Linked DNA regions of Homo sapiens. The protein of the gene in region 2 purifies or fractionates together with the protein of the main gene of each other region. This does not show direct contact. Each region holds a gene or a part of one and is shown on either strand. Other genes may lie near its edges. The genes, in order: USP48 and FMNL2.

The links.
Region 1: the proteins of FMNL2 (region 2) and USP48 purify together in Homo sapiens (affinity purification with mass spectrometry; one large-scale study listed by BioGRID and IntAct). This does not show direct contact.

Annotation. Positions count from the first base shown.
Region 1 is NC_000001.11:21,755,430-21,759,246, forward strand, and holds part of USP48 (ubiquitin carboxyl-terminal hydrolase 48), read right to left. Parts: intron 2,355-3,817; coding exon 2,234-2,354; intron 1,276-2,233; coding exon of another isoform or gene 1,274-1,275; coding exon 1,117-1,273; intron 1-1,116.
Region 2 is NC_000002.12:152,621,398-152,625,214, reverse strand, and holds part of FMNL2 (formin-like protein 2), read right to left. Parts: intron 2,679-3,817; coding exon of another isoform or gene 2,658-2,678; intron 1-2,657. UniProt on the Homo sapiens protein: Plays a role in the regulation of cell morphology and cytoskeletal organization. Required in the cortical actin filament dynamics.

The DNA.
Region 1 (3,817 bases), on a different chromosome or scaffold from region 2:
GCATGCCTGTAGTTCCAACTACTCGGGGGGGCTCTGGCAGGAGGATTGCTTGAGCCTGGGAGGTTGAGGCTACAGTGAGCTGTGCTCGCACCAGCCTGGGCGAAAAAGTGAGATCTTGTCTCAAAAAACAAACAAACAATAAAAAAAAACCTTTTCTGTTCAAATTATTGTGTAGCTTCTGTCTTCTAATCAGACTCTGAATATTTGTATCCTTACTACCAATTGTGGCTTTCAGCAAGTCAATATACCATCTGTAAAATAAAGATAAAATATTACTCCTTGGGGTGCAAAGGTTTTGCAGGCTGGTAAAAGCTATTCAAGGCCTGGCACCATGGTTCATGCCTGTAATCCAGCACTTTTGGAGACCGAGACAGGAGGACTGCTTAAGGCCAGAAGTTCAAGACCAGCCTGGGCAACAGAGCAAGACACTGTCTCTATAAAAAAAATAAGTTTAGGCCAGGCACAGTGGCTCACACCTGTAATCCCAGCACTCTGGGAAGCCGAGGCGGGTGGATCACCTGAGGTCGGGAGTTCAAGACCAGCCTGACCAACATGGAGAAACCCCGTCTCTACTAAAAATACAAAATTAGCCGGGCGTGGTGGTGCACGCCTGTAATCCCAGCTACTCGGGAGGCTGAGGCAGGAGAATTGCTTGAACCTGAGAGGCGGAGGTTGTGGTGAACCGAGATTGTGCCATTGCACTAGAGCGTGGGCAACAAGTGTGAAACTGTCTTAAAAAAATAATAATAATAATAATAAAATAAGTTTAGGCTAGACACAGTGGCTCACACCTGTAGTCGCAGCACTTTGGAAGGCCGAGGCAGCCACATCACTTGAGGTCAGGAGTTCGAGACTAGCCTGGCCAACATAGTGAAACGCTGTCTCTACTAAAAATACAAAAACTAGCCAGGCGTGGTGGCGGGCGCCTGTAATCCCAGCTTCTCAAGAGGCTGAGGCAGGAGAATCGCTTCAGCCCAGGAGGCAGACGTTGCAGTGAACCGAGATGGCGCCACTTCACTCTGGCTTGGGAAACAGAGGAAGACTCAAAAAAAAAAAAAAAAAAAAGTTTAAAAAAATGTTCAGGAAGAGAGCTCTCCCCCACCCCTTTCCACCCACCTTTTTCTTCTTGGATGCCGTCTCCCAGCATGTAGTCACTACAAGTGCTTGGACATAAGTAGAGTGCCTGCCGAAGCTCCAAGTTGAGAAACCACACTTGAAGAAATGTGTTGACATAACAAGTGGCTCCAAGGTTAGTCAGGCCCACAAATGAGTTCTACAAAAATACAAAATTCATAATTATAAAACCCATTTTCCTTTAAACAACCAATTTCTAAGCATTATTCTTAAATTTTCAGATTAAAAATGTGTAAGACCGTCACAACCAACATGGTATAGCCACCTTAAGTTTCTCTTGGCTGGAGGTGGGGCATAATTTTCATGAAAGCCCCATTTTGGGTTGACCACAGGAGTGAAAAAGACTTCGGACGGCATCACTGCTCATCTCTAGCATATCGTCTTCTCCAGCCACTTAAATCTAAAATTAGAACAGTGGATTCTAGAAAAGATCGGTTTTGAACAAGCGTATATAGGTTTTATGTTTTCTGTATTTCTAAACTGCCAGCATTCAGCAGAATGACAAAGTAAAACTTATGCAGAAAACTTCCTTTATATTCTAGAGATTTTAAAGATTGGCGGTGGTAGAGGGAACTGGCTGCAACTTTTTCCAAAGATAAGGTTGGGAATTCCTGACCTTACAAAGAATTATTATTTTATTAAAATATCTATATATAACAAACTTGGATATTTCGTGAATGCTAAGATTTATGTCTAGAAAATTTAATGTATATTTTTAAAAAGCAAAATTATATATAAAATACAAGCCCTAGAAAGCAAAGTGCTATCATCATGAGTTTGTTCCCTTGAATTACCATCTCCTTTAAAGAGGCGTTAAGATTTCAAAATAAAACATGCAATGTTAAAGCAAACATAGAATCAGCATTCAAACTAAAACTATTATTTAAAGGCTTACTGAATTACGCAGCTGCCTGTTTTAAAGCATATCATTAAGAAGTGTTCCAATTCAAGTGGCTTAGAGTCTTAAGTTCTACTGCTTATCTTAAAGCTGCACAGGTTACCTGAAATCAGTAGAGTTTTCTGATCACAGGCCCAAAACAAAAGCAAAAACAAAAACAAAAAACAGCATATAGCAATCGCTTAAAAAATGATGGTTTACCTTTTTTCTCCTCTCACAGTTGGGATCATCGATGTTATGAAAACTATTTTCATCTATTTCTCCTAACCAAATATGCTCACCAATACCAACCAAGCAATTCGGATTTCCTTTGCAGTTTCGTCTAAGGGGAAAAAAAAAACCTTTAATTTTTAAAAGACCATAGTTTCATGAGAGACAAACAAATTAAAACTAAAATGAGATACCACTTCTCATCTATAAATTAGCAAAACTGAGAAAGTATAAGACACTCAGTTTGTGAGGGTGTGGAGAAGAAAGCATGCATATACTGCTGGTAGAAATGCAGTCACTAACAAAACTACATAGACAACTACCTTTAGACCTAGCAATCTCATTTCTGAGGATTTACTGTTCCTTAGGCTATACCTCCAACAATGCAAAATCTCACTCATAAGGTTATTCATTACAGCACTGTCTGTTAATTGCAAAATATTGGAAGCCACCCAAATGCCCAAAAATAGACAATATGGTACATCTATATGGCAGAGTACTATGCAACTGTAAAACACACACACACACACACACACACACACACACACACACAGCATGAAAAAGATATCTATGAACAGATATAAGGTAATTTATAAATCCAGGACACATTATTAAGTAAAAAAAGCAAAATGCAAAGGAGTATCTCTAGTATACTGTTATGTGTAAGAAATATATAAGGAAAATATACATGTACATATTTCTGCTCATTTTGTACAAAAAGAAATACAGAAAGGAAAAACAAGAGACTAATGAAATTGGTTACCTACAGAGCATGAGTGGGAATAAGGTTAAAAGAAAATACACCTTTTCGGCCGGACACAGTGGCTCACACCTGCAATCCCAGCACTTTGGGAGGCTGAGGCAGGCGGATAACAAGGTCAGGAGTTCGAGACCAGCCTGAAACCCTGTCTCTACTAAAAATACAAAAATTAGCCGGGCGTGGCGGTGCGGGCCTGTAATCCCAGCTACTTGGGAGGTTGTGGCAGAAGAATCCCTTGAACCCAGGACACGGAGGTTGCAGGGAGCCGAGATTACACCACTGCACTCTGGCCTGGGCGACAGAGCAAGACTCTGTCTTGGAAAAAATGAATGAATGAATGAATGAATGAATGAATGAATGAAAAGGAAATGTACCTTTTCATATAATGAACAATTTGGGACCATGTGACTGTTTCTCACACTACTTCACGCATGCACACAAACAAAAATAAATCAACTGGCTAGGCGTGGTGGTTCACGCCTGTAATCCTAGCCCTTTGGGAGGCCAAGGCAGGAGGATCACTTGAGGTTAGGAGTTTTGAGACCAGCCTGGCCAACATGGTGAAACCCTGTCTCTACTAGAAATACAAAAATTAGCCAGGTGTGGTGGTACACGTTTGTAACTCCAGCTACAGGCTGAAGACTGGAGGCTGATGCAGGAGAATTGCTTGAACCCAGGAGGCGGAGGTTGCAGTGAGCCAAGATCGTGCCACTGCACTCCAGCCTGGGCAACAGAGAGAGACACGGTCTCAAAAAAAAAAAAAAAAAAAAAAAAGGAATCAACAAGGATGACAGGAACCCTAAATTCAAAACAGA
Region 2 (3,817 bases):
CTTAAGGGCCAAGGGTTGATTTTTTTTTTTCTTTTAACTCAGGCAACTAATTTGCTGCATTACAGTTACAATATTAGGACAATGGTTGGGACAAATAAAAAGTGTTGGAGAGCAAAGATTATTACTCATGTTACTAGATAGCAGAGAGGGCAAAAACTTGCCATATTTGGACATCCTAAATTCTTGGTTGCAGACCACATGTTTACAAACAAACCTTAGAAGATGATCAGGGACTGCAGACAGTGGCTGACTAGACTACCAGAAGTACAACGTCATGAAGGCTGACTTCCTGTGGGTGATTCCGATAATGAAGATATATTGGCTGCTGGGTTATTTCAAGCAGACTAAGGGATATGAATGGCCTAAATGAGAAAATAGGTTTTGAGGTCTTGCTCTGTCACCCGGGCTGCAGTGCAGTGCCGCAATCATGGCTCGCTGCAGCCTTGACCTCCCAGGCTCGGGCAATCCTCCCACCTCAGCCTCCAAGTAGCTGGAACCACAGCTGTGTGCCACCATGCCTGGCTAATTTTTATATTTATTGTAGAGACAGAGTTTCACATGTTGCCCAGGCTGGTCTCAAACTCCTGAACTCAAGCGAGCTTCCCCACTCGGCCTCCCAGAGTGCTGGGATTACAGGCGTGAGCCATCTTGCCCAGCCTAAGAAAATGTTTAAGACAACAGAGTGAAAAAAGGGGTACATACAGACCAAGACTCTGTCTTAAAAATAAATAAATAAAAGGGGCGGGGGGGAAGGAAAAGAAATTGCTGGGCGTGGTGGCTCAAAGTCCTAGCACTTTGGGAGGCCAAGGCAGGTGGATCACCTGAGGTCAGAAGTTCAAGACCAGCCTGGCCAACATGGTGAAACCCTGTCTCTACTAAAAATACACAAATTAGCCAGTTGTGGTGGTGTGCACCTATAATCCTAGCTACTCGGAAGGCTGAGGCAGGAGAATCGCTTGAACCCGGGAGGCAGAGGTTGCAGTGCACCGAGATCACGCCATAGCACTCTAGCCTGGGTAACAAGAGCGAAACTCCATCTCAAAAAAGAGGAAGGAAGGGAGGAAGGGAGGAAACTCCTCTTTTTTGAGATGGGAAGGAAGGGAAGGGAAGGGAGGGGAGGGGAGGCGAAGGGAATTGAGTGGAGGGGAGGGGAGGGGAGGGGAGGGGAGGGAAGGGAAGGAATTGTATGGATTCTCAGACTCAGAAATAGCCACAGTCCCTTGCCCTTCATTTTGAAAAGCAAGTTCTTCCCAGGAGTCAGCTGTGTTTGACTAGGAGGTATCTACACACTCATTAAAAATACTGAAAACCTCTTAATAGAGAGAATGGGATGTATCTTTAAGGGACTATGGGGAGTGCCAACTCCTCTCACTGTGCGGGAATATGCCAAAAAAGGTAATCCATTTAAAATTATATTTATCTATTATATATCATAAAGAAGTCTTCCCAAACCATTTAGCCATACACATTCAGCTTCGTCAGTCTGTTCTGGGTAGCCTACCACACTACTTGGGAGCTTCACTATTTGTCATTATTAGCAAGACAGGGAGGAGAACTTCAGCGCTTCAGTGCAGAACAAAATAAAAGCAACACACGACTAAGCTTGTAGCTGGCTGCCTGCCTGCCTGCCTCAGTTGGCGTTAACTGAGACAGACAGTGCCTCTCATTCCTCCAGAGTTACAAAGGCCATTTAAACAGCAGGAATGTCATCTGATAAATCCACACAAAAGCATGCAGAAAAACAGACACAGCTTTAGCCAAACCAGGCCTCTCCACCACCAAACATGACACCTTTGTCCCCACTACGCCACAGTGTCAGATTCCTCACCGTACAGCATTTTGTCTACGCTACCCAGGAAAACAGATGTTCTCGATGGGACAAAGGAACAGACTTTCCTCTAGCACTTGCCCTAGCATTGCCTCTGGCACTTCGGCAATGTTAGGGATCTGGGGAGCAGCAGAAGGGCCGCAGAGGAGTCTTTTCATAACCTGAGGTGACAGGTTGGTGCCAATGGCGTCCTACCTTCCTCCCACAGACATGGTAGGCTCATGACGCTCGCTAGAAGTTTGCCATTTGCAACCACCCTTCTAACTATTTAGCAAGGTCAGGAATAAGCCTGAGATCAGAACACAGGCAAGAAAGTTCTCCTCCTTGGAAAGGTTTTCCTGGCTTTAACCAGGGTGGGAGTGGGAAGAGGAGGAAAGCACATAGGTGACCACTGGACACACTGTGTCCCCATGGCTCGGGCTAAAGGCGGGTGAGTGCTCCCTGGAGTGGGCCAGAGACCAGCATGAGGGAGGGAATGGAAAAGGGGCACCTGGCACCTTTTTTTTGTTCTTAGAGTTGAAGTCTCAGATACAAATATAAAAATTAAAAGAAGAAGAAGAAAAAAAAAAAAAAACCTTTTCTCAGAGGAAATGGAAGAGGGCATATGAATCCAGGATGTCTGCTTCAAGGACAATAGTCTCTTATGTAGGTTCAACTAGAATGTGTGGGCAAACCTGGAATCATCATCAGCCACCACCAAGACTTCCCGCAGACACAAAGTCAAAATGCAATGGATCAAAGCAAAATGGAGTGGAAAGATGTCAAGGCACAGTGTGACCAACAGAAACACATGGCAAATACTCAACACACTCAGTGAGGAGCAACCTACAGAAAAGCTTGATTGGCCCATCTTTTGTGGAAGCAGAAAGAACAGAGAAAATACAAAAAAAATTAGATATGGTTAGAGTCAAGTGGCTCAGCAGTTCACGCACTCAGCATAGAATTTCATGCTTCTTGGACACATTTCACAAGGCGGCACAGAGCCAAAAATTCATTTCCATTCAGGCCTGCCTCCAAGACTCAACTATTTCATTTTTAAAATTATCCTTTTTAGAAGAGGGAAGAAAAAAATTATTTCATCGTAGTGGTACCAAACAGCAATACTGAACTGTGCTAGGCATTCCATAGGATAGGAATAATTTTTACATGAAAAACAATCAACCAAAGTCCAAATTCGCATTGTGAGGATCCGAGCACATCCTCCCAGACAGACGGCAAAGGTTCCACCTGCTCAGCAGCCTGTCTCAGGTGACCTACCGGGGGAAAGGGAGCCAGGTTGTTCTATCACAGACTTGAGAGGAAGGAAGCCTTCTTCTTCAAATGCATATTTCACACTACTACTATTTTCTCTATAAAATACAAAGAAAACTCTCAACTAGATAAACTATGGGGCTCTCCTCTTGGTCTTCTGTCTTGGTCTCCAAGAACACACCTGCCCATTGAAGAGATAAGACCCTCGTGTTGCCTGTGGGTCCAGAGGCCAAGTGATGTCATAGGTTTCTGACTTCCCAGGAGGCTTCAGAATATTAGCTCAGCTCTGTCTCTTCATTCTACTGGGCATCCTGATTCTGTCTGGCCTCTTGGTTCCAGAGTGAGAGAGAGAGTTACTCAACACACTAGCAAAACATCTCACCAAATGGGCTTCAATCACTAAGAATTAACAGTCTAAATAAGGATGAATAATAAAGAAAGATTAAAGGCCTTGGAGAAATTGCCTGATCTCGAGCTATCAAAGACTCACAAGGATCTTATAATGCTTCCAAGACATCCCTCACAATCATTTAGTGGACACTTATGGAAATAAAGAGTTCCTGTATTCCCACCTACAGTCCTCTAAATTGCATGAGCCACAACAGGGACCACTTCCAAGTATAGCAAACCCTAAAAGCAGTTGGTTATCAGCCAAGCACAGAGCTCTACACCTTAAAATATTGAGGCAATTGACAGAGCCAACACATTTTTAAAATCAAGTAGTGGGAAGAACCCAAG